7 linked regions of the Homo sapiens genome follow. The protein of the gene in region 7 interacts with the protein of the main gene of each other region in a biochemical or structural test. Each region holds a gene or a part of one and is shown on either strand. Other genes may lie near its edges.

Region 1 (3,500 bases), on a different chromosome or scaffold from region 7:
GGCTCGAGTGATCTTCTCACCTTGGCCTCCCAAAGTGGTGGGATTATAGGCATGAGCCACTGCACCCAGCCTGGCACAAATTCGGAATAAGACCCTGGGTTCTTAAACTCTTCATGGTTTAGGGGAAGACTCAAAAAAGCCACAAGACTCCTTGCTAACAAAGCTTGTGGTGTCTTGAAGGATGAAATGGAAAAATGAGGAAGCTGAGGCAGTACTGGTGCTGTTACTGTCGTGGACAGACCATGGTGCTGCAGAGAAATTGGTGCAGTGCCACCGGGATGCACAGGGGTCATGGGGGCTCAGGAGGGGGCCTAGCCCAGGAGGAGGGGATGCCCACACTGAGACTTCAAGGAGAGGCTGGAGTTAGGCATGTGCAGGGAACGGGAGAGGCGCACACCTGGCAGAAGGAGTGTGCATCAAGAGCCTGGCAGCAAGCGACTGTAAGATGGCCAGGAACTGAAAGCAGTTCAGGGCTGTCAGAGCACAAAGGGCCAGCGAGGGGTTGTGGCGGGAAACATGGTTGGAGGGAGCCAGTGGGCAGAGCCAGTTCATGAAGGATTTACCATTTCTGGGCTGCTGCTGCCCATCCCACAGTGGAGAACTTAAGACCCCAAGATAAAAGTGACTTACACAAGGTCACACAGCCAGCTGGGGTTCACTCAAAGCTAGAGAAGGAATCCCACCCCGAATCCCGCCCAGATCTCAGGGGGACGTCACTCACCTGCAGGCGTCCAGAGTAGAGCTGCAGCAGGAGGTGGTCAGCTGGGCCTGCTGCCAGGAGAAGGAGGGCTTCGGGCTGGGACGTGGAGAACTGCAGCTGCAGGTCTATGTCGGTCAGAGCCGTGGCCACAGGCACCTCCAGGTGGTTCTCACCGAAGAAGGAAGCTGTGTGAGAGAGGGAGCTGTGGTCAAGGCTCAGACTCTTGCCTGGAGGAGGCGAGGTGCCGCAAAGAGGGACGGGTGGGTTGCAGAAAGGGGTCCGTGCTGGCGCACCCTCATGGTTCTGCTGTATGGTGCTGCCTCTGAGCACTGCCCGGGTCCCAGCATCTTCTTGGTCCTGGCACCAGAAGGCACAGGCTCACCTTGTGTCCAGCCCAGATCTTGTATTTACAGGAGGTCAGACCCAGAAATTCCCAGCAACTCAGGTCTCCTCCTTGGAGGTTCCTGGAGCCAGAGGCCTCCGCCAGCTCTGACTCGCCTCCCCTGGGCCCCAGAGGAGTCTCCCTCGTGGGTCTGGCTCCTGGACCCAGCCCAAAGGGAACCGCAACTGGCCTGACCATCTGGCTTGGTGGTCACAGCCCCAAGGAATGGAGTTTCTGGAGAATCACCCCCAGTCCAGACTGATCCCTGCTCAGATTCCTTCTCCTAAGTGCCCTTGTGCTTGGGCTCCTGTGCAGCGCCTGCTGTGCCATGCCCCGCCTCCATGGGTTGGCTGAGGCCACGACTGGGATCTGGGGGTGGTGTCAGCATGGCCCACCTATCCCCGCTTCTCTCTCAGGCCATTCTTCCAGCTGCCATTGAGCGTCGGGGCAGGAGCTTATTGGCCTGAGTCTGCCAAGGAGCAAAGGCTCTGAGGCCAGATGGGGACCATGTGCAGTGTCAAACCAAAGTGGGCCCACACTTCCTCCATTACCCTTGCTATTGCTTCCTGCTGGAGAGCTATTCACAGTCCCCGATGAGCAGTCAGATCCGGCCCCATTGTTTCCACCGTGGCCAAGGAACCAGGGATGAGAACAGCTGAGTTCCTAACTTCCCCAGGCCACCACGCAGGCTGAGGCTGAAGACAGGGCTTGGGAGGGGCTGAGGGTCTGCTGGGCAGGCCAAAGAGGGCCTCCCCAGGCAGAAGGCCATGTCTGGGCTTGCCTGGGGTTAGTGGTTCCTATGCAGGGCCCGTTCTGTCCCATACTGGGACTCCTCCTCTTTTGAATTGCTGCTTCCTCCAGTCAGTTTCCCCAGATTAGCCTCCCTGACTTCCAACCCGCTGCCACAATTTCTGGTCCATGCCTTTTGTGGTGATAAGAGCCAAATATAACTTTGACTTTGCCTGCAGATGTCCAGGGCTGGGGGGTAGAGAAACACGGGTTAAAAACGGTGATTCATTCCTGTTGGGCTTCCCTCAAACCCGAGAGCGAGCACAGGCTGACGGCCTTGATAGGGATAATCCGGCACCAGCCCCATGTGCTGGTCCCTGGCCAGCCTGAGCCAGCTGCCATCCGCCTGAGTAAGCAGCTTCAGCCGTTGGAGGAGTCGGAGACTTGTACACCCTAAGGGCAGCCAGCCCCACTGGGAGGGATGTCCAAGAAAGATCCCGTAAGAACCCCTTGGGCTGAGTTAAATCCCCTCTAGTTATCTCCTCCTGCCAGCACTGCTGGCAATACCAGCACCTTGTCTGGGAAGCTACGGGAATCAAGGGAGCCCTGCAGACCATCTGCGCGGGGGCGGCCCAGCTGGTTCAGCAGAGCTTGGCGCCAGCAAGGGACAGACCAGGGAACTGCAGGTGGCGGCCACCTACCGGGGTGCCTTATCTGCAAAGACATTGATTCCTAAGAGCAAAACACAGCACACTAAAGTGAGGGAGGCCATAGCACAAGGGGTGGGGGCACATGGCCCTGCAGGATAGAGCCACCACCGTCACCTGCTGGAGCGGCTGACAGCAGCTGCCAGGAGTCTACTGTTGAATTTTCAGGAATTTTGAGAGCCAGGTGATACTGCCCACAGTGAGAACATTTATACCAGGAAAAGAGGCAAATACTGCAAATCAGGGTTCCCCCTCCCCAAGAAAGCCCATTGCTAAACATTTACCTATCCAGCACCCACAGAGAAGGGGGCACATGTCCCTGCCCCTACCCACCCTTGCACTAAAGGTATATGTAGACCCGCCAAGTCATGGTCAACATCAGGGCTCTGGGCCAGGCAGGAACTGAACTAGATGGTTGGCCCTAACCACTGAACCACCTGCCTGCAGCCCCCTCCCAGCAGAGGAGAGTAGAGCCTGTTTGGCCAGAGTGGGAGGGTGGCAGGAAGTAGAGGTACTTTCCAGAGCGCTGGGGTCTGAATGGGTCCATTGAGGGGCTGGGCCCTGCTGCTTCCTGTGGGGCTGAGCGGGAGGGGCTCACACAGGCTGTCTTGTGCTGCTGGAGCGCGTGGCCAGGCAGCCCCCCACCCCAACAGAGGCCTCTGAGGCCTTGCTGGCCAGGGCTCTGGAAACTCTGACAGCGCCACTCCCTCCACCTCCTGGTCTCCTTTTTTCTGCCCCTCTTACACTCTCTGAGGGGCTTCAGTTGCAAGAACTCAGAATCCCTGTCTTGGAGGTGGTGGGGGGGCAGTTGAAGAGGGGCTTCAAATGGAGAGGGTGTGCAGAATTAAGATGTAATAAGCTAGGAGTCAATCCAGAGGACTTCCTGGAGGAGGTCACGGTGGTGTACAGACACAGAGAGGGAGGAATAGGCAGTCTCAGAGGACAGCAGCAAGGCCGAGTGAGACTGGCAGGAAGTACACAG
Region 2 (3,500 bases), on a different chromosome or scaffold from region 7:
GCTGTGGAGCAGCTAAAGATGGAAGCCTGTATGGACAGGGTCAAGGTAAGCATGCATGCGTCAGCCCCACCCTCCGCCCGAAGCTCAGCTCAAAACATTCCTCCTGCTTCCAAAGCAGACTTGTGAGAGTTAACACGTCACCCAGCAGAGCATGCAGCCAACCTTGGCAGCTGTAACATTTACAAATGAGTGTTTGCTTCACAGTTCTAAGTGTGCCCAAGGATTCAAAGGATGCAAAATACACAGTGTGCATGAATTCCATAAGGAGTCTCCAAAAATAGACTCATAATTCATCTCGGCTCTATTTAGCTCCGTTGTCATGCCAATAAGCAAGAAAGAGAGTTTAGCAATGAGATCAATCACTTTTCTGCTGTGATACAGTGCCTTTGAGGTTCAACAACATCGGATATTTTGACAGGATTATTGTTGAGGGTGGAGCTCTGAACCATGCCTGGGTGTGTCAAATATTCCTTTGGTGAAAATGAAGAAAGGTTCCAGACACCTCCCGTTGTATTCATTTCACTGATGAGTGCAGGTCTCTCCACGCTGGGAGGACTGCAGCAAGATGAAGCCACCTCTTCTCCAGATGCCACTCAGAGGTGAGCAGAAGGCCAGGCAAAGCATGTGGCTCTGAACGAGTCCGTGAGCATGACGCTCGTTGACTGTAATAGAGTTGAAAGGAACCCCAACTCTGGTGTCGGGAACCTGATGCCAGGAAGCTCCATGTGTCTGTGGTCTTGGGGAACACAAATCAGAGGTCTCACCTGGGCATCTGGGATTCAAAAAACACAGAATCCATGGCAACGGGCGACTCCTGAAGCCTTCTATGGACAGAGCCTCCCTGACCCCTCCCCTCATGCTAGTGTATGGCTAGAAAGCACCAATACTCACCTCTGTGTGGACAGTTATTCTTTTCCCCTGGAGCTCTGGGGGTACAACCTCTCCAAGGAGGCAGAAAATATGCACGGAAAGTTACATGAGGGTATATGAAGCAAGGAAGGAATCCAGCGTGATGTAAGTCAGTATCACCGGACCCATGTTACTAGAGCATCTACATCTCATACATACCGATACCAACTGCAAATTACATGTCAGTCCTTGGTCTCTAGACTAGAGGAGGGAGCAAGTTTAGAACCCAGAAAACAATTCTAAGACACAGCGGGTCCCAATAGCATAGAAAGGGGTTTCAAATGAAAGCTGCAGGCATCCCGTGCTCCAGAAGTGCAGACAGGAAAAAGGATGAGGACTGCAGTGAAAGGCATTGCTGAGCACCTAATCTATACTTGAAGGGTCCTGGGAGAGAAATGTGAAGGCGACAGTCTCCTCCGTATGGCTCAGGGAAGACTTCTCAGAGTTGTGAGCTATGGCTGGCTCTGAGCTGATAGTGGAGGAGGAAAGGCCGGTGTGAGCTAATCACGGCTCGTGTGGAGCAGCTGGGCAGCGGGAGGAGCTGCAGGTTGTGCTGGGAAGAGAGCTATGGGAGGAGGGCGCCATGCACACAGGTGCGGAAGCCACAGCCATGAGGTGACAGGTGTGTGAGGTGAACCAACCTGTAAGCAATAGACGGAGTTGTCAGAGGTGAGGAGGTAGTTGAAGCTCTGAGTAATCAAGAGAGGCAAGGAGGGGCAGAAATCGGGTACAGTGTGGAGCAGACAGCAAAGATGCGATCGGGGAGGCAAACACACCAAGAAAATCAACAGAACATGGAGAGTAAACGTGGGAGGCACTAGGGAGAGAGACGTTAGAATCCAGCTGTCAAGCCCCATGGCCAGAGACCTGAAAAGACAGTGGGCCCCAGTTTGGGCTATAAGGCAGTTCTCCTTTGCCCAGGCGTTCTCTTCTGGCAAGGAAGATAAATTCTGCAATAGCATCTTCACCTGCCACAGACACCGCCCCAGGAGCCCCTGTGAGGACCGGGTGTCTTCAAGAATGAAGGCTTCTTCAAGAGTCACTTAGGCACACACACTGTCACTAAAAGAAAGAGGAAAGTCAAAGACAAATGAGTTACTGTAGGAGTTCATTCTCACATTGCTGTAAAGAAATCCCTGGGACTGGGTCATTTATAAAGAGATTTAATTGGCCTGTGGTTCCACAGGTGGTCCAGCAAGCATGATGCCTGTATCTGCTTGGCTTCTCAGGGCGGAGGGTGCGGAGGCCTCAGGAAATTGAAAATCATGGCAGAAGGTGAAGGGTAAGCAGGCACATCTTACATAGCAGGAGAAAGAGAGAGAAGGGGGAGGCGATACACACCTTTTTTTTTTTTCTTTTTTGAGACGGAGTCTCGCTCTGTCGCCCAGGTGTGATCTCGGCTCACTGCAAGCTCCGCCTCCCGGGTTCACGCCATTCTTCTGCCTCAGCCTCCCGAGTAGCTGGGACTACAGGCGCCCACCACCACGCCCGGCTAATTTTTTGTATTTTTAGTAGAGACGGGGTTTCACCGTGTTGGTGAGGATGGTCTCAATCTCTTGACCTCGTGATCCGCCTGCCTCGGCCTCCCAAGGTGCTACACACTTTTAAACAACCAGATCTCTTGAGAACTCACTCACTATTACAACAACAGTACCAAGGGAGATGGTTTTAAACCCTTCATGAGAAACCACCCCCATGTCCAATCACTTCCCACCAGGCCCCACCTTCAACACTGGGGATTACAATTTGACGTGAGATTTGGGCAGAGACACAGATCCAAACCATATCAGTTACTCAGGTGATATTCAATCAAAGGGATAGGCAGGCCAGATGTGGTGGCTGACGCCTGTAATCCCAGCACTTTGGAAGGCCGAGGCAGGTGAATCACCTGAGGTCAGGAGTTCGAGACTAGCCTAGCCAACATGGTGAAAACCCATCTCTACTAAAAAATACAAAAATTAGCTGGGTCTGGTGACGTGTGCCTGTAATCCCAGCTACTTGGGAGGCTAAGGCAGAAGAATCACTTAAACCCAGGAGGTGGAGTTTGCAGTGAGCCAAGATTGTGCCACTGCACTTCAGCCTGGGCAACAGAGGAAGACCCCATCTCAGGAAAAAAAAAAAAAAAAAAACAAAAAACGGGATAGGCCGCCATGTTGCTGTGCTGACCATAATGGAAACGTGAAAGCAAGATTCCTCAGGGGGCCTGCCAGAGGCTAATTCAGATCCTGTGGTAATTCCAGGGAGTAGGCCAGTGACAGCTGTGTCAGATTTGGTTCAGAAACAGAGTTGGTGGAAACAGAATGTTGTCATTGAAGAGACAATGCCTGAGGAGAGAGCTGAACCTAGGAACCGCATCTGTGCCAAAGATGCGTGAGCACACATGGGTGGTTTTTGTTTTTTTCTTGCTTGGACACCCTTGAACATTAATTTTTTTAGTTGTGGTAAAATATATATAACATACAATTTATCATTTTAACCATTTTTAAATGTACAATTCATCAGTATTAGGTACATTCACAATATTGTGCAACCATCACCAGCATCCACCTCCAGAACTTTCTCATCTTCCCACACAGAAACTCTGTACCCAT
Region 3 (3,937 bases), on a different chromosome or scaffold from region 7:
GCTGCTGTCACGGCCACCAGGACCCAATTGCCCCAAGTTTGCTGCCCCTCCGGTTAGGATGTTGCACAGGCCTCCAGCTTCATGTGGTCCCACCCTCAGGCATTTCTGTCCCTCCTACCCTGGCCTCTAGGTCCGGCTGACCCCACTCGGCCCAGTGGGGCGCGGCCTCTCTAGCACCTGTCCATCCAACCTCAGTGAAGGCAAACTCAAGCTACAATGATGCCCTTGTACTCCGGTAATTCTGCCCGTCAAACTTCGGACTCAGTCACATAATCGGGGGGAGGACTTGCTTTTGCAAATCATGCAGCACACATCAGCCAGCTCCGTTTGCAAGGTGGCCAGGGATTTGGCTCTGCGGCCTTCACTGGGGCAGTTTTGGCCCCCAGGGCACATTTGCCAACGTCTGGGGACACTGCTGGTAGTCAGGAGTCCTGGCTACTGGTTGGCAAGGCTGCTGGAGAGACCTGTTATCTGGATCAAGGTCCCTAGGGCTGCGGTAGGGAAATCCTAGGCAGCTAAGCAGAGAGCCACCCTGCGCGGTGGGGGCGGGGAAGTGCACCTGGCCCTCCCACCTGGACATAGCTGGTTCAGCCCAAAGTGCATTCCAGTCACTCCCCAGCTCCGGCTCTGAATGAGACATCCCATAAACCCAGCTGCTGTCCCTGGCTCTGCTGCCACTCACGGGGTTCCCCCAAAGGGTGGGAATCAGAGCCTGCCTCTGACAGGTGCCCGTGTGGGTGACAGGTCTCCTGCCACCCGTTCACCCGCTGTAGGACAGACACACAGACAGTGCCCTCTGAATGCCCTGTCATCCACTGTCTTCTGCCCCTCCCCAAACTTCTGGAAGGTGGGTATTTTCCCGGGCAGGTAAGGAAACCAGGTGCAGAGGGAATGTGGCCTGCGGGGGTGGGACTGCTGGCCAGGCCCTGTCCTGACCTGGATGGCTGTCCCCAAATGGGGACCGGGGGGAGTGGGGGTTCTGGCCTCAGCCAGGGAGTCACTAGAAATAAGGACGCTGCTCCAGACGGATGGTCCCCTGTGCTAAGGACAGGAGCAGCCCAGATCCATCTGGAAACCAAAACTAAAACTCAGACCCAAACTCGCGGGGAGCGCCTGCGCCTGGATCACAACGTGAACACAGATGGCCATCCTCAGGATGGGGACCTGCGCGTCACATGTGAGCTGTGGGGACCCTGGCACGCCGCTTCTCACTGCTTCACCTCTGTGCCTCAGTTTCCTCATGTGTAGGTGGAAAGTGCTTCCCACATAGGGTGGTCCTGTGGGTCAGAGATGGCCCCCGAAGAGCCAGCGACCTCAGGGAGGCCCCCCAACAAGGGTTTCTCCCCAGTGTCCAGGTGGAGGGAGGGCCCATCCCACCCTCCAGGTGACTTTGGTCCAGGTGACTTACTTCTTCCAGGAAGCCCCCAAGACACCTCCCTTCCAGCAAGACTGGGGTGGGTGAGGAGTGCCTACCTTCAGCCCATGGCTCCTGCTCTGGACAGTACCTTTCATCTCACCCTGTTCCCCTCTGCTGGCTGTGGGCATCGCACAGCAGGGTCCACGTCTGCCTGGCACACTTGTGGGTCAACATCTTCTAACTCAACACTCCTACTAGTCCCATTTTACGGATGAGGAAACCGAGGCCCCAAGAGCTGCTTAGTTCACAAAGAGCCAGGATGTGAGCCTGAAACCCACACACCTGGGAACTATGCCACGGAGGGGTCAGGACCTGCAGCCAGGCACAGCACCTGGACCCTCTTGCTGGACCCCCAGCCAGGCCCACACGCACCCCCTAGGCCCCCATGTTAGGTGGTGCACAGACTGTTCCCCTCAAGGACACAGAGAAGATTCAGGCCTTGATTCAGGTCAGAAGCAGAGGTCACCAAGACCTGCCATCGCTGCCACTCCCTCAGTCCCCCCACCTGCTCAAATCTCAAAAGGGATACTGTTCCCATTTCACAGACGCAGAAAGAGGCTGAGCGGCCAAGACAAGCGGCCACGGCTCCCTGGTAGGTGGGACGCACCCCTCCCCCTCCCCATCTCCCTTCTCAGGGGAGACAAAGCAGGTCCCTCCCTGCCACCGCCCACCAAGGTCAAGGGTGGGGGAGGGGCGTATGGTTTGGGTTTGTCTTGGGTGTGGGGTTCTTCCTTCTCGGGGCTTTTCTGAAATTTTGGGGCCAAAGCAGGTTTGGGTGTCAGATTCCCCAAAGAGCTCCCGGGAGGGTCGTTCTGTTCCGCCCCCCACCCCATGCTCTTTCAAACTCCCTGGGGCTTCCAGAGTCCTCGGCGCTCAAGTCTGAACCCAGGTTCCGGTTGCATGGAAGTTTTCCTTTAGGAAGAGGAAGCGGCCACTCGGGGTCAAGAGAGGGCAGCGAGCGAGCGGGCGGGGGCAAGCAGGGGGCTGCCTGGTGTGTGTGGGGGGGCGGGTCCAAAGTCGCATCCGGCTCAGCCCGCGAGCCCCGCCTCTCCCGCCCCGGCGGAGCCCCAGGAGGGTCGCGAAGTTGTTGCGGCTGCCGGGGCGGGGCTTGCGGGAAAAGCGAGGGGGAGGAGAAGCGCCCCGGGTTCCCGGCGCCTCCCCCGGGCTAATCCCCCCACCCGGCTCCCCCGAGCCCCGACTCACCTGTCCCCCGGCTCACCTGTCCCCCAGGCTCACCTGCGCCGCGGGGCGGAGGGACGGAGGGGCGGCGCGCTGGCGGTGCAGCTTCCAGCGCCGGGTCCTGTCCTGTCCTGCAGCCGCTTCGCTCCTGCGGCAGCGCGGTCCGGCCCGGGGCGCCTCCTCCGCTTCCTGCGCGGTCTGGCTGGAGGGCGGCGGCTGCGGCCCCGCAGGTGGGCGCTGGGCGGGCGGGGCTGCTCCGGGTCCGAGGGCCCGGGCGGGGAGGGCCGGGGAGGGGGCGGGGCGCGTCCCGGGCACCTGTGGCGGCGCCGCCTGCGTCACAGGTCACAGCCCCACCTGGGCCGGCTGGAGCCCACGTGATCGCCCGGACTGGATCGCGCCTCTCGATTCCCGCCGAGCCGCCGCCGCCCGGTGCCTGCGCCTTCCCTCCCCGCGCCCACGCCCCCTCGAGGCCGGCCCGGGAGTCGCCTGCCAGGCGTGGGGCCAGAGCGGCTCGGCTCCCTCCTGCGTCACTGTCCTTCCAGGCCCCGCTCCACTGCCTCCTCCAGGAAGCCTTCGGGGAAGGAGACCAGCCCTGCGGGGACCGATGTTTGCTGTAGAAAGGCCCGGCCCTCTGGATTCTTGGAAGCCAGGCGGCCAAAGACAGCCAAGAGGGCGCAAAGCACTCTGGCCACCTTTTTGGTGTGGTTGAGTCGCGGTCATCCCCATTTCACAGAGAAGGACCGAGTCCTGGAAAGGAAGGCGCTCGCCCTCGTGCACAAGGCTGAGCCTGGACTCCGAGCCTGGCCTTTCCTTGCTCCGCCTGCTGGGAACCCGTGTGAAAGTGAGGGAGGGCCCCGGGCAGAGGCTGCAGCAGCCCCCCAGCTGGGGGTTCAGGAATCAGGCCACCTGGTGCTGTGGGAGGGGCTGGGGGCTGAGCCAAGCCTCCCAAGCTTGGGCCTGGCCATTCAGGAATGTGACCTGAGGTCCCAGGGCTCAGACCCACTTCTGACCTGCCTCCATCATCCCCTTTTCAGGAAAGGCCTGTTGCCAAAGGCCTCCATGTGAACATCCACACTGGGCTTTGGGTCAGCTTCTACCAGCGTCCCCTCACTGACCCCAGGCCTTGGGGTCGTGGGCCGGGCACCGGTGTGCCAGCCAGAGGCACTGACCACCCTCCTCCCAGGACCTGCCTCCCTGGCCTGGGCGGCCGTGAGATCCCGTTGCGGGTTGAGGAGACACCACAGGCTCTGGGGCTGTCACTTGGCATTTTCTCAGGTGTCATAGGTAGAGGGGCGGCCTGCCCTGCCCCTCCTGCTCTGGTCGCCCCACCCACTAGTCCCC
Region 4 (3,500 bases), on a different chromosome or scaffold from region 7:
TCTCCTGCTGATTTCAAATATCCTTTTTTTTTTTTTTTTCAACTGTGATCACTTTCAGACAGAAAAGCCAGCTTAAAGAGTTAATTTACAAGCTGCATTTGGGCAAATGGTGTTAAATGATGAACACTTTCTAACGCTTTATTCATGTACTGACTAGCAAAGACATTTTATAAAATGACTACTACCTGGGATTACAAACGCAATAATTGTATACATTCTCCTATACTTGTTGGCTAGCGGTGGTTAATGCCTCTCTAAGTATTGCCTACCGCAAGAAGCTACAACTTCCCTACTTAAAAAGGCCCTTAATTACTGTGCTGGATTCTCTTTTCTACAATGTCCTGCAAACTATCAAGCTCACAATGGTTTCTGTTCAGCAGTTTATTTCTTCTCTGAAATATCCTGTTGAAATCCATAATCATTTTGACAAAACCCACACAGAAAGCAAGCCAATAATTTCCCTGGCATTTGGTAAATGCTGCAGAAACCATCATAAAAGCACCACAATGTAAAAATAATTATTTCAATGTATTAAGCGCTGGCTCTGAACCAGCTCCTGTTGTAAGCACTTTACATGTATTAATTCATTTAATCTCCCCAACAACCATATGAAGTGGGTACTTTTATCACTCCATCCTACAGATGAGCAAAACGAGGACCACAGAGATTATACAATCTGCCAGGTTACACAGCCAGCAAGTTGCAGTGCCAGAATTGGACCCTGACAGTAAGGCTGCTAATCATGACACCTCACTACCTTAATGACACTTCATGAGCCTCACTGAGTATGAAGGTGAAATCCCAAGCACTTTCCCTGGCCAAAACTACCATATGTAATCTCAGACTAGGGTAGAGGCAGACAGCAAGACTTTGAAAACATGTGCTTCATCCCTTCCCCTCACTTCCCAAAATGATATTGTTTTAAAACAAAACAATTAAAAATGAATGTGAAGAAGGTTCAAAAGTCTCAAAAGAGAAATTCAACTTCCTTGTTGCCATGATTTGAGGTACAAGGGGAAACAGGGCTGATTATGTATATTCAAGCTTGGAAAAGTTTTTTGTTCTTTTTTTTTTCTTAAGAAAAATTTTTAAAAACCACTGTGAACTTCAGGAATCTTGAGCTAAAATATAACTTAGATCAATATAATCCAAATTGTATTTTTAAAAGGAGGAAGCTATCATCCAAACATTAAATGGTTTGTCAAGGTAATAAGGTTTAATGGCAGATCTCCTAATTTCTGATTTGGGATGCTTTTTACTTCCCTCATGCTTGCAATTCAGACACAGCTTGCAATGGGCCAAAACTTCAGATACCACCTAGCCAGTGTTTCAAAAGTCTATTTGTAAACTGATTGTGGGTTTCTATGAAAAACTGCATTCCAAGTTTCGGGCCAGGCCCCAAAAGCCTGCATAGTACCCTGATAGCCTCACTTCAAATACATATTTTACCTAACCTTCATATACAGTATCATTTTTGTGTCAAACCCCATACCTGTTTTAAATTCAACCTGGAATACAGGACACCAATGTCTACATTTTATGTACATGGTCTCAGGCCATAAGGAGCTTCCTCTGCCTTGCCAAGCTCACAGATGTGGTGATGGCATAGTGTGTGTGTGTTGTGGCAGGGTGGTGGGGGCAGTGTAGGGGCACAGATGAAGGAAGAGCAGTACTAACACCATTAAATATTTGCAACTCACCCAATTTATATTTAGTGGAGAGGAAACTATAGAAGTCAAACATGCCTCAGATGTCAAAGAAAGGTGCTTCCCCTGGCCCCCTCCCTCCCTACCCTATATTGTGAGTTCTGGATTTTGTGAAGACTGTATTATTCTATATCTAGCTACCTGGATTGGCACCCACCCAGTCACCAGGCATTATTCCATTCAGGAAAAATGCTTTGCAATCACATGACTTACAATAACTCAGACACTTCCACATTTTAATTTATATATTTGGTAGTAATAAAATCTCACAATACAATCCCTAACAACATTTTATCAGCTGCAATGAATCATTATATATGAGTCATAATAAACTATAATGTTATCAAGACTATGAATAATAAAATGATCAGTGATATAGCCAACATTTATTGGTATATCAAACAAATCTGAATTATGAAAAGGAAAAACAACAGGTCAATGATGAAGAAAATGTCTGCAACATTCCTAAGTTTAATTGAAGATCACCATCATGTAACATCCCCAATTTAGTAATGGTAACATAGCACACTAAATTAAGATAATTCCACTGAATTATTAAAGTGACAAGGTAAGAAATATTTGAATGTTATGCAACTTCTGAACTGAAACCAGCAAGTACATGAATTACTGTTCTTGGCAACTTAGAGCCTGATTACCTTACCTTGAAATAACCCTGTTATTTCTTATCACTGAGCATCGAACTGACCTGCTGACTGCTATCATCACTTCCATTGATGTAAGAATGAAAGCTTACATCCACGTATCTTAAAAGTTTTCCTTCTTTTCTCTATTTGCAGCTGTCTGTAGTGTTGTCTGGCTGTGAAATAGTTATTTAATTCTCCAAACATACCTAGTCCTCTGGTGTTATGTTTCAGATTCTTCTTCCCCCTTCAGTGCAGGAAGGGCACTACAGAATCATTTCACACATTGAAGGAGTAACTATCTCCCTGTACACTTGAAGGCGTGAAGGCAAACTTCCCAAACTGACATACAATACCATAGGCATTTATGCCCTAAAATAACCCTATAGTAACCTCTATTTTACCTTCCATTTAAGAATGAAGATATGATGTCCATTTTAGAATTAAGCAAGGTAGGGAATTACTGCTCAATTGAAACAGAAAGAAAAACACATTAGATTACAGAGCATTCTCAAAATACCTTAATATTTCAAAAGAGTCAGGTAAGAGACTAGACTTACCTGATGGTTGGCATCATCCAGGGTATGAATATTATTTAAATTGATCCCTGGGTAACAGCATGGAAATTACTAAGGTCAAAAATTGCCAATAATTGCATTTTCAAAAATTAAAGCGAGTTTCAAATTTTTACATTAAATTTACTTTGCCTATTTACAAGAAAAGGAAGAAAACTGCGATTCTAATTTAAACCTAATCCAAATACTCAAGGTCATAGAAATGCTAAAATTTTTATTAAACTGAATTTGGTAGTAGTTTCTTTAAATTCATATCATGTCAGAACTAGTCACAAAATTAGATTTGATTTATTCAGCTTATAAATGCATTACTGCTGCAATAATGTATATAATTTTACTTTCTGGCTGAATACTAGCTGCCCCTAGTTTCTTCTTCCCTTGTTTTCCATCAATACTCTGCTCCCTTATCTCCCTCCAAAAACAATACAGGTAAAAATTAAAATAATTGGATATTTAGCTTTCCCAACTTAGACTCTTCAGTATAATACATAAGACACCAGATGCAGCACCCTCTCCTTACATAATAGTAGGGGGTGGGGAGGGAATGCACTTTGGTCAAAATACAATTTCGGTTATTT
Region 5 (4,043 bases), on a different chromosome or scaffold from region 7:
CTAGAATAATTCATGACACATGAACATTACATGAAATTCTGATTTCTTTGTCCATAAATGGTTTCTTTGGGACACAGCCACACTATATTGTCTGCTTTCATGCTGCCACAGCTGAGTTAAGCAGCTGGGGCAGCGATAGCAAAGCCAAAACCACTTCCTACCGGGACCTTTAAGAAAGTGTGCCCTTAAATACTCTGATAGCCCCTAGTGAATTAAATTGACCACCTGACATCATGCCCCTGTTGACCCTTCAGAGACTCAGGCACACATCCAGGCCCCAATGCTACCTTTCAACCCCTCAACGACCTCAAACTGGTGTCCACTGACGCCCCTTCCAGTGACACCCCTCTTAATTCTTCCGACCTCGGCGAGAAGGGGGCTAACCTAGGCCTGTCCTTGAAGAGACCCAGGTGCCAGTCCATTCTCTCCAGCCTCCCCTCGGTGATCCCGGAAGCTGGAACGGCGGCTCTCCTCTGACCTCTGCACACTTTCTGAAGATGGGAGTGTCAGGGCAGGCAAAAAAGAGAAGCTCTTCGTTCCCCAGAACCCACTTCCAGTGCCTCAGTTCTGTTTCCCAGCAGGCTTGTGCAGGTCGAGATGCTCACACAGGACTGACCCTGGTGCCCCAGCGCATCCGGGAAAAAGGAACCACAAATTCCTCGGGAAATACACAGAGAAGATCCCGCTGCCACTTGGCCTTTCCCACGGCGTGGCTGCCCCTCCCCGGCCTCCCTTGGGCCCGGCTGGAGCGCACAGCGCGGGACGCCCCCGACCCGGGGTCCTCTGGCACGAGGGGCAGCCTGATCTCGGCGACCGTCTCCACCCAAGGCTGCTGCCCGCCCCAGCTCGGACTCCGCGCGGCCTGGCTCCCAGGGGACGGGCGGGAGGGCCCGGCGAGACCGCTCGGCCGTCCACCCAGAGCCGGCACCCGGAGGTCGGCCCCTGGGCGCGGATCCCGATCTGAGGGCGGGTCCCAAGCGGCAGGGAGCGAACCTGGGACCGTGCCACCCCCCCACCAGTGGGCGCGGCAGCCGAAAAAAAGGGGAAGCGCCGGCGCTGGACTCTGCTCAGGGCAGCCCGCGAGGACCTAGGGCTCCGGCCACAGCGGCCCGAGCGCCCGGGGTGGGGCTACGCGGGCTCAGAACACGGTGGCTGGGGCGCCCTGCCCGCCGCTGCGCGCTTCCATTGGCTGCCGAGGCAAGGGCGGGGACTCAGTCACCGGCCTCCGCCTCCCGCGGCGTCCACACTCGCCGCGCGCGCGGCGGCCGGGCTGGACCTTGCTGGCCCGCGGCGCCATGAGCCGCAGCCTGGACTCGGCGCGGAGCTTCCTGGAGCGGCTGGAAGCGCGGGGCGGCCGGGAGGGGGCAGTCCTCGCCGGCGAGTTCAGCGTGAGTGGCACACGGGGTCCGCGAGCGGCGCGCCCCGGCCCTGGCCCTGCGTACGCCTGTCCTCCGCGCACGGCGGGCTCTGCCTTTCTGTCTCGGTGTCCCCGGTGTCTCCCCGCCTCGGGGGGTCTCTCCGTGTTTCTCTCCCCAGCACTTCTCTGTCGCTCTTGCTGTCTCCGTCTTCACTCTCTGCCCCCCGGCCCCGGAGCGCGACGTCCACGGCCAGGCCGGGACGGACCGTGCACACCCTCGTTCCCGGTGTCCTCGTCGCGCTCCCGGAACAACCTGGCTGCGGGCGGGACAGGTGGGGCGGGCGCCGCAGGGGAGGGCGGGCGGCCCTGCTGCGCTGGACAGCCCCGGCCCCGCCGCTTCTGGCGACCTGACTGTCCCCTGTGACCACAGGAAGGAAGGGGCTGCAGCAGGGCGAAGAGGAACACGGAGGCTGTGGCGTGGTGAGGGTGTGAACGCCGGGCTCGAATCCGCGTCCGGGCCCGAATCCGCTTCCCGTCCCGAATCCGCGTCCCGGCCATCCGCGTGTGGTCCAGGCGGTCTACCTGGCCCCTCTGACCTCGGCTTCTCCCTTGGTGAAATGGGGACATGAATGACCAAACTGGTCTAAGGATTAAATGATGTGGGTGAAAAGCACTTAGTACATATTGGGCGCACACTTCGTAGGGGCGTTCGTCACTGCCTATAAAGATTCTAAACGTGGGCCAGGTGCGGTGGCTCACACCTGTAATCCCAGCACTTTGGGAGGCCGAGGTGGGAGGATCGCTTGAGCTCAGGAGTTCGAGACCAGCCTGGGCAACACAGCGAAACCCCGTCTCTACTAAAAATACAAAAATCAACTGGGCATGGGCGCATGCCTGTAATCCCAGCTACTAGGGAGCAGAGACAGGGGACTCGCTTGAACCTGGGAGGCAGAGGTTGCAGTGAGCTGAGATGGTTCCACTGCACAGCTGAGATGGTGCCACTGCACTCCAGCCTGGGCCACAGAGTGAGATCCCATCTCAAACAAAACAAAACCAAACAAAAAATCTAAACGTTACAATACAGGTAGTGCAAGCCCAGCATTAGGAAGGCTCACGCAGAATGCTAGGCACTGTACATTACAGTTGATGACGTGTTTAAAGTGTAATCGCTTATGTACCAGACATAGAAACATACCATACAAACGCATAAACTGATATATGGTGACATGTATCAAGTTTAGAAATATGACAAATATATAAAAGTATTATAAATGACCGTTTATACAATAAACATTGCATAACTGCATAAAACAATACAACAAATGAATATAACAAAGATTATAATTTATAAAATGACCAAAGTTATTTGATAAATTCATAAGTAGATATAAAATATGTAACAGATGGCCGGGCACGGTGGCTCACGCCTATAATCCCAGCACTTTGGGAGGCCGAGGCGGGCGGATCACGAGGTCAGGAGATCCACACCATCCTGGCTAACACGGTGAAACCCCGTCTCTACTAAACACACAAAAAATTAGCTGGGCGTGGTGGCGGGCGCCTGTAGTCCCAGCTACTCGGGTGGCTGAGGCAGGAGAATGGCGTGAACCCGGGAGGCGGAGCTTGCAGTGAGCCGAGATCGCGCCACTGCAGTCCAGCCTGGGCAACAGAGCGAGACTCCATCTCAAAAAAAAAAAAAAAAAAAGTAACAGATAATTATAAACCTAAGTAATTTACACACATGTAGAAACATTGTATATAAGAAACTAAGAAATGCATAATAAATGTAAAATATATAATTATACAATATAAGAATGTGTGTAACAAATGTAAACATAATACCCATGTGATATATGACATCATGCGACTGGGTGGGTTCTGAACCGTGTACAGTGCGGAGGGCCTCACATGCGGAAGGCTGGGTGGCGAGGGCACCCCTGCTCCCCAAGCCTGCCTCCCGCATGTGCAGGAATCACTGCGCTCTTCTAGGTGTTCCCACTACACAAGGGCATCATGAGGGCTTAAATGACCCAATGGACACAAGTAAAGCACTTAGAATAGTGGCTGGCACACAGTGGTGGCATGGGTGTTACTTATTATCATTGAGATTACGAATACCTGACGATGATGGTAATACACGATTCACTAATTATTATTATAATCTCCCAGTAACACAGTGCCTATAGTATCTTGTACATAATATGTTATCCATTATAATGCCTATGCATTCATTGTACATTGTCTTATATGTTTAGCTACATAGCCCATAATATATTTCATTACAGTTATTGCTTACAAGACAATGTCACAGATTGAGTGTGCAGGGGGTGGGTGCCGAGAGGGTCTGAGTTCAACCCTCACCGTGTGACTTCCTGGTTGGGACCTTCCACAAGTCGCTGAACCACGTGGTGCATAAACTTTCCCGCCTGCACAATGGGGACGTCAATAATAGTACCCACGTCGTAGGAACCTGTGATGATTACATGCCCTTAGCACAGAGAGTGGCACAGAGAAGGTGCCCTGGGTCACTATTTCGGTATCATTATTATTAGGCAGGCCCAGTGCCATCAGGGTCTGCACTCACCTCCCCAGGCCACTGGCTTTGTATCCTGCAAGCGTGCCTAGGTGGCCTGGGACTCTGACCTGGCTCCTCTCCTGTCTTCTCCCCTCCCTGACCCACTCATAA
Region 6 (3,500 bases), on a different chromosome or scaffold from region 7:
GCTCAGTTCACACAGGATGGAGGCTTGAACTCAGGACCATGTGACTCCAAAGCTAAAACTTGCAAAGCTAAAACTTGCAATCATTAACACCTCTCTGCACATAGGAGGGACACTTATTAGCTGTCTGGCCTAGAGGCCTTGGGCCCTTCACCCGCCCCCACCCCCACTGAAGCAGGGACTTGTTCTTGGTTTCCCAACTACATCTCTGCCCACTCATGCCCCCTCCCACCCCATCCCCACTTCTAAGCTGCTACTTTTCCTTTTTTGTTTTGAGACAGGGTCTCACTCTGTCACCCAGGCTGGAGTGCAGTAGCATGATCTTGGCTCACTGCAGCCCCAACCTCCTAGGCTCAAGGGATCGTCCCACCTCAGCCTCCCAAGTAGCTGGGACTCCTACAGGTGCATGCCACCACATCCAGCTAATTTTTGTGTTTTTGTAGAGACAAGTTCTCACCATGTGGCCCAGGCTGGAACTTTTCCTTTCAAAAAAAGGAAAACACTCTATGGGTCCTCCTTCCCCACTCCCACCCTGTCCTGCCACCCATCCTACCCTCACCCCACCCCCACCATGCCCTGCAGAAAAGAGAAGAGCTTATGAGGACACGTTCAGGCTGGAGCTCAGAAAACCCAGAGCTACCAATGACTTCAAAGCAGCAAACAGCTTGTCCCCAGGGGCTCTCAGGGATGGAATAGGTTAATCCATTACTTTTGTTTCCCCTTTTTTTGAGAAGGAAGAAGGGCACTCTAGGAAAAGTCCCACAAAAATCCAAGTCTCAAGGCATGGTCACCCTCCTGGCTGGTGAAGCCACCACTCCCTCCAGCTTTGTGCCTACGCCTGCCCAGCACACCTTCCGTACCCAGATCTCCAGAGCCAGACAGCTCAAAGTCATCAGATTCCTGCCCGGGCCCCACTACATCCTCATCGTCTGGTAGGGCTCCGGAGAAGTATCGGCCTTCTAGGAGGTCCTGGGGGTCGATGACCTCAGTCTCTCGGATCTAAGATAAAGAAAGGAGACACATCAGCCAACATCCCCAGTGCTCCATGACAGCTGATGCCCAAAAGCTAGTGAAGTGGGCATTCAGAAACTAGAAAGAGACCAGGCCAGGGCCTGGAGACCTGCGTCCTGGATCCCACTCTACCTCTAACTCACCGCGTGTCCTTAGGCAAGTCTCTTTCCATTCTGGGCAAATAAAAATAGTACATGAGGCTGGGCACAGTGGCTCACACCTGTAATCCCAACACTTTGGGAGGCGGAGGCAGGCAGATCACTTGAGGTCAGGAGTTCAAGACCAGCCTGGCCAACATGGTGAAACCCCGTCTCTACTAAAAATACAAAAATCAGCTGGGCGTGGTGGCTTACGCCTGTAGTCCCAGCTACTCGGGAGGCTGAGACAGGAGAATTGCTTGAACCCGGGAGGCGGAGGTTGCAATAAGCCAGGATCACGCCGTTGCACTCTAGCCTGAGCTACAGAGTGGGACCCCCGTCTCAAAAAAAATAAAAACAGTAAATGAGGTAATAATCAAATTATTAATATGGCTAGATATCCTTTACCGAGCACTTGCTATGTGCTGGGCCCTGTTTTAATAACTCTGGAGGCATGTTATTCACTTCTTTTTACAGCCGAGGGAGTCATTTTCTTTTGGTGACACAGCTGGCAGATGGAAGAGCGAGGATTGCATACGCAGGGCTGCCTGACTTCAGAGCCAGGAGTCTCCATGCACAGGGCCCTGGGATGCTACACTCCAGGGCTCTGTGATGCAGTGGCAGCTGATTCACACAGGACAGGGAGTGGGCTCCTGGTTCTGGTCTTGCCCAGTCCAGGATACTTTTCCCAGCTGAGTCAGTCTGGGCCGGGACAGACAGGGCTGCCTCACGCACACCCTAAGACAGCCTCAGGTCAGGGCGCTGCCCAGACCTGATGACTCAGGAGTGTACTCCTGGATTCAGTCTTGCCTTCCAAACATCTCCCACAGATCTACTCTGCTGCCAGCACCATGCAGACACCGAGAGGCACAATCCCTACCCTCACAGACCATCCACTCCAGTACCCATAATCATCACTCAGCCACTACCCTGTGGAGACACAGCTGATCAGGACAGAGTCTCAGGTCCACTCCCACCAAACCGCTTGCCAAAAGAAAGTGTCAAAGGTCCCGGGCAGCCCTACAGTACATCAGTTACCCTGCTCCCATCCTGTAGCTCCACCGAGTGGGAACAATGTACCCTCAAGAGCACAGGAAACATTTGGATGCCCATCACCCTTCCTCCAGCTTCTGGGCTCAGGCTTCTGTTTGCCCAGAGAACAGCAGCTCTGAGCAAAGTTCATTATTCTACTAATTAATTCAAACACTAAAGTGCCTAGTATTTGCCAGGAGAGTTGGGGTTTTTCATTAAGTTCAATACACCATGCCCCTCCCGCTGAAAGACATTCCCATCTTCTCCAGACGCCATAACTGCAGGAGCTGGGGGTCTGCTTAGAATCACAGAATGCCAGGACCCAAGGAGCTCCTGTCCTCCCGTTTCACACAACTTGAATCTGAGCCCGGAACAGGGCAGGGACTTGCCCAAGGTCACACAGAGCGTTCGCTACATAACTCAGGATAGAAAGAGGTCAGGTCTCTGTTTCGGACACCCCAGGCAGTCCTTCACTCAGCTGAGACTGCCATTGACAAAGGAGGGTGTCTGAGAAGGAACATCTGTCCCTAAGATAAGGTTATTATCATTGCAGGAGAGGCCCAGGAAAGCTGCTTCAGAGCCACTCCTGTACTCTCCCCACTGGGCTTCTGGGGAGAGGCAGGTGGAACCTGACCCTCATGCACCCTCTTCCACCCCCACAGAGGGAGAATGCTGGATTCCCGGAAGGGAGCGGGGTCAGGCCACAAGGAAGGCAGTGGCCAGGAATCACTCTCTCCCGGGGAGTGGGGAGAATGCTGAACGCTTGGCACCCGTGGGGGTGGAAAGCCAGAGAGGTTAAGTGCTGCTCAGAGATGACTTCATGACTCGGGAATCAGGAGCTGCCGGGCTGCTGGTGCTGGAATTCAAGCCCCCGCACATAGCCCGTGCCTGTGGCTTTGGTTTGGCAGAGCAGGAGGAAGGCTCCTCATGGCTGCCCAAGTGCCTATACCTAAGGGCAGGGTCCCTGTGCTCCTACCTCCATCTCCTGTGGCAAATCCCCCAAGAACCCAAGTGACAGGCCTTAACCAAGCACACAGCCTGTCTAGGTCCTTTTAATAGTCCCTTTTTGCAGAGATGGAAACAAGGGCTCAGAAAAGTAAAGTCACTTGTCCAAGGCCACACAAGCAGGAAGTAGCCACACTGGGCCAGAACCCAGGCTTCACTGACCTGGACATTTAACCACAAACACATAAACACACGCATGAACACATATGTACACGGGGTCACCAGCCTGCCCCAGGCTCCAAGGGAGCCCTGTTAAGTAGGGGGGTCAATCTAGCCGGGAGAAAGAAAGAATGGTACACTTTGGCCAGCTGTTGACCA
Region 7 (3,500 bases):
TTGAGCACATACACCAGGCTGTCCTGAAACAGAGACTCCGCTCAGGGCAGGCGTAACGCGAGCAGCACACGGGAAAAGCGTCCCGTGTCTAGTCACTGGTTGCTGAAGCAGCGTGGCTGGGATGCTGTCGCCACGGGCTCTCCATGTCCCTGGCCACCCCCACACCAGAACCCCGACGGCTCTCAGGAACCCGCCCCTCGATGTCCGGGCCCATCCCAGAGGAGGTCGGTTTCCCGGAGGAGCACACGAGAGACCCAGGAGACACCCAGCTTTGAGACAGCGACAGGCCAGGTCAGGGCTGGCCGGGAAACAGGCACTGGTTCTACAGACCGGGCCAAGGACTACATAACTTCCCCCAAGTCATCCCCAAAACTGTGTGGGAGCACTGCCGCCTGTGTGGGAGCACCACCCCCAGTGTGGGAGCACTGCCGCCTGTGTGAGAGCACTGCCCCGAGGGAAGATGCCACCTAAAACCTGGGCACAGGAGCCCTATGGCTGTAAAGTGCTCATGGAAATGAGCAGCAAAGGAGCTGGCTGCACAGGAGGGCGGGGGTAGGGTGAGCAGGGGGCGGGGAAAACAGTTGTCTGGCAGGGCAAGTGTCCGGCAAGGTGAGGCGAGGTGGCCCTGCGCCTGGCATTTGCTCGGGGCGACAGCCTGCCTGCTCTGATGGAAGTGGTGAGAAACGGCTCTGGGCAGATAGGGGTGGCATGGGCCTTTGCTCGGTGCCCCTTCAGAGAATGTGGCCACCAATTGGTGACTCAGCAGCCCCCTCGCCAGAAGCAGGAAGCAGACTGGCCCTGGCCAACTGCCCATGCCCTTCCCCAGAGCCAGGCGGGAGACCAAGGCTGGGAAGGCGTGAGGAGTTCTCCCTGAAGGCGCCTGGTGCTGAGGGCACCCACTCTGGGATTGGGGAAGTGAGGAGCCCCCACTGCCGCCCACCGTGGCCTGGACAGGGAAAATGTGGATGACTCCACATGTGCCCCCGCCATCCCACTCCACAGCCTCGGCACAGCCAGAGGGGCTGCAGCCACAGAGCTCGCGGCCGACTGGGCTAAAGGCAGGCGGAGGCCTTGACTTCTGAGTCCCGCCTGCTGTCCCTGCAGTGGCACCGGGCAGTGGGTGTCAGGAGGGGAGGCTCACGTGCTGCTGGCTGTAGCCCTGCAGAAGGAGCAGATGCGGGGACTGGTACAGCGAGTACCGCATGGCGTCGGGGCCGGGCTCCTCGGGGCCCTGGGCGGCAGCGGGCAGGGCGTTCACTGGGCTCAGGCTGGTCTCACTGACTGTGCGGCGCAACCGGGGTGGAGGAGAGCTCCGGGCATCCCCCAGGGCCGGGGTCGGGGTTCCCTTCGCGCGACTCCGCTGCAGCCTCCGGGCCTGGGCGTTTATCCCTGGAACAGAAGCAACACAAGGTGAACAGTTAGAAGTCTCATAGCACCAGGACTGGGCGCGGTGGCTCACCCCTGTAATCCCAGCACTTTGGGAGGCCGAGGTGGGGGGATCGCCTGAGGTCAGGAGCTCGAGACCAGCCTGGCCAACACAGTGAAACCCCATTTCTACTAAAAATACAAAAATGAGTTGGGCGTGGTGGTGCGCATCTGTAATCCCAGCTACTCAGGAGGCTGAGGCACGAGAATGGCTTAAACCCAGGAGGCGGAGGTGGCAGTGAGCTGAGATTGCACCACTGCACTCCAGCCTGGGTGACAAGAGCGAAACTCCATCCCCCGCCAAAAAAAACAGGTAAGTCTAATAGCGCCCATGTCCCGGGTCCTTCTGAGTTCAAATCCCACTAAGCCACGTCTCCTAATGCCGTTACTGTTCTGTCAAAACAGGTCTGGTGGAGACTCAAGGACTCTGCCCTCTAGCCACGCCCCTCGAAAAACCAGACAGTGCCTTGGCACCACCGTGGCACCCACAGAACAGTCTCAGAGCAGGCAGCCTGCCTGTCAAATCCTCAGGCTGAGGGGACCACGCCTCCCCTGCAGCAGCCCAGGGTCACACCGCGGCCTGCCCGACCAGCCAGCACCACGGCCCACAGGCCTCAAACCACAGACGTTTTCCCACGGCAGCCTGGGCCTCTGCAGGGTCACCACGCCGCCTCCAGAGCCCTGCCCCATCCATCTGTGCACCAGGCGAAACTCCCCTGGGGGTGGTGCTCTGACGAGACGAGACGGACTGGTCAGCATCCTGCCCCTACTTTACAAGGAGGAGGTGTCACTGTGCCACATCACCCCAGCCCATGGGGCTGCCGATGGCCTGCTCCTGCAACAGCATCGCTGCCTCCTTCCCAAGGCTGTCTCTGATACCCCCAAGCCAAAGCAGGCACACACACAAACACACGTGTGCATACACATGCCCACAAATACACATGCACCCACACAAAAATGCACACACACATGCACACACATGCACCCAAAAACACACATGCACACACATACACACACGCCAACACACATGCACCCACACACATTAACACATACATGCACACAAACATGCGCACAGTTCAGAGATAACACACACCCTTAGAAGACTTAATATCTCATAAATACAGACACGCTCTCTAAATGCATGCTCTGGGAAAGCCAGCCGGCTGCGATAGATGAAAACCGCTCACCAGTCCCCAGCTGACCCGGCGCTGTCTTTTCTGAGCCCTCTGCTGAGTTCCCTGTACGCAGCCTTTCAGGTTAAGATCCATCCCCATCTGTGGCGGCCTTTCCTCCAACCATTCCCAATAAAACCAAACAAAAGCCGGATGGAGGGAGGCGTCAGCTGGCTGAGGAAGACCCTTACCAGCGCCAGCAGCCCCGCCGTCCTTCCCAAGGCAGCCGGCAGCCTGTGCATCTGCAGCCCGCAGGGGGCCAGGGCGTGAGGGAGGCCGCCCAGCCGCAGTGCGAGGCTGCTGGGCTGGGCTGCTCACCACCCGTGCTCCTGCCGCCTGCAGAACCCGGCCCAGCCTGGCAGGCGGCAGGTGCCCAGCAGGTGGGGCCCAGTTCCCCTACCTCATCCCACCCGCCACTCCCACAAGCGTTACCAGCCCCACAGCTCAGCCTCATTGCACAACTATGGGGCCAGATCCGAAAGAAGAACAAAAACAGCTCCAAATGATGCTCCGGCCCTCAACTTTCTCCCAAATCCAGGGCCAGGTTGTAGGAGGTGACCTCAGAGTGACCTGCTGGAAGTCCCAGGGCCATGGGGCAGGAAGGGTTGCTTCTCCTCCTAGAGTCCCAGGGGCTCCCAGAGGACCTGGCCACAAATGCGGCACGGGATGTCCCAGGCCTGTGTCCCCTGGGGCTGCAGCCCCAGGCAAGTGGCTCGCAGCTGAGTGTACCCTGCTCCTCCAGGCAAGGCTCCACAGCCTCCTGAGGCCCAGGGCTGGGCTCTCTGCAGGTCGGAACCAATGCTGACACGCAGGGGCCACTCCCAGGGTCTCCTTCCTGGTGCTGGGTAGGCCTGCATGTGTGCAGAAGGGCCAGGCTGCCAGCCTCCAACGAGGGGCCGGAGG

Evidence for each region.
Region 1: the proteins of RADIL (region 7) and CSPG4 interact in a test that uses a peptide from one of them, tested with the Homo sapiens proteins (one large-scale study listed by IntAct).
Region 2: the proteins of RADIL (region 7) and GNG4 interact in a test that uses a peptide from one of them, tested with the Homo sapiens proteins (one large-scale study listed by IntAct).
Region 3: the proteins of RADIL (region 7) and ARHGEF16 interact in a test that uses a peptide from one of them, tested with the Homo sapiens proteins (one large-scale study listed by IntAct).
Region 4: the proteins of RADIL (region 7) and PKP4 interact in a test that uses a peptide from one of them, tested with the Homo sapiens proteins (one large-scale study listed by IntAct).
Region 5: the proteins of RADIL (region 7) and PTPN18 interact in a test that uses a peptide from one of them, tested with the Homo sapiens proteins (one large-scale study listed by IntAct).
Region 6: the proteins of RADIL (region 7) and SDC4 interact in a test that uses a peptide from one of them, tested with the Homo sapiens proteins (one large-scale study listed by IntAct).

Annotation. Positions count from the first base shown.
Region 1 is NC_000015.10:75,692,349-75,695,848, forward strand, and holds part of CSPG4 (chondroitin sulfate proteoglycan 4 precursor), read right to left. Parts: intron 886-3,500; coding exon 722-885; intron 1-721. UniProt on the Homo sapiens protein: Proteoglycan playing a role in cell proliferation and migration which stimulates endothelial cells motility during microvascular morphogenesis. May also inhibit neurite outgrowth and growth cone collapse during axon regeneration.
Region 2 is NC_000001.11:235,580,285-235,583,784, reverse strand, and holds part of GNG4 (guanine nucleotide-binding protein G(I)/G(S)/G(O) subunit gamma-4), read left to right. Parts: coding exon 1-45; intron 46-3,500. UniProt on the Homo sapiens protein: Guanine nucleotide-binding proteins (G proteins) are involved as a modulator or transducer in various transmembrane signaling systems.
Region 3 is NC_000001.11:3,453,528-3,457,464, reverse strand, and holds the start of ARHGEF16 (rho guanine nucleotide exchange factor 16), read right to left. Parts: upstream 2,801-3,937; 5' UTR 2,654-2,800; exon of another isoform or gene 2,637-2,653; intron 30-2,636; exon of another isoform or gene 1-29. UniProt on the Homo sapiens protein: Guanyl-nucleotide exchange factor of the RHOG GTPase stimulating the exchange of RHOG-associated GDP for GTP. May play a role in chemotactic cell migration by mediating the activation of RAC1 by EPHA2.
Region 4 is NC_000002.12:158,459,952-158,463,451, reverse strand, and holds part of PKP4 (plakophilin-4), read right to left. Parts: intron 1-3,500. UniProt on the Homo sapiens protein: Plays a role as a regulator of Rho activity during cytokinesis. May play a role in junctional plaques.
Region 5 is NC_000002.12:130,354,813-130,358,855, forward strand, and holds the start of PTPN18 (tyrosine-protein phosphatase non-receptor type 18), read left to right. Parts: upstream 1-1,243; 5' UTR 1,244-1,295; coding exon 1,296-1,388; intron 1,389-4,043. UniProt on the Homo sapiens protein: Differentially dephosphorylate autophosphorylated tyrosine kinases which are known to be overexpressed in tumor tissues.
Region 6 is NC_000020.11:45,334,925-45,338,424, forward strand, and holds part of SDC4 (syndecan-4 precursor), read right to left. Parts: intron 997-3,500; coding exon 858-996; intron 1-857. UniProt on the Homo sapiens protein: Cell surface proteoglycan which regulates exosome biogenesis in concert with SDCBP and PDCD6IP.
Region 7 is NC_000007.14:4,835,217-4,838,716, forward strand, and holds part of RADIL (ras-associating and dilute domain-containing protein), read right to left. Parts: intron 2,235-3,500; exon of another isoform or gene 2,172-2,234; intron 1,390-2,171; coding exon 1,142-1,389; intron 24-1,141; coding exon 1-23. UniProt on the Homo sapiens protein: Downstream effector of Rap required for cell adhesion and migration of neural crest precursors during development.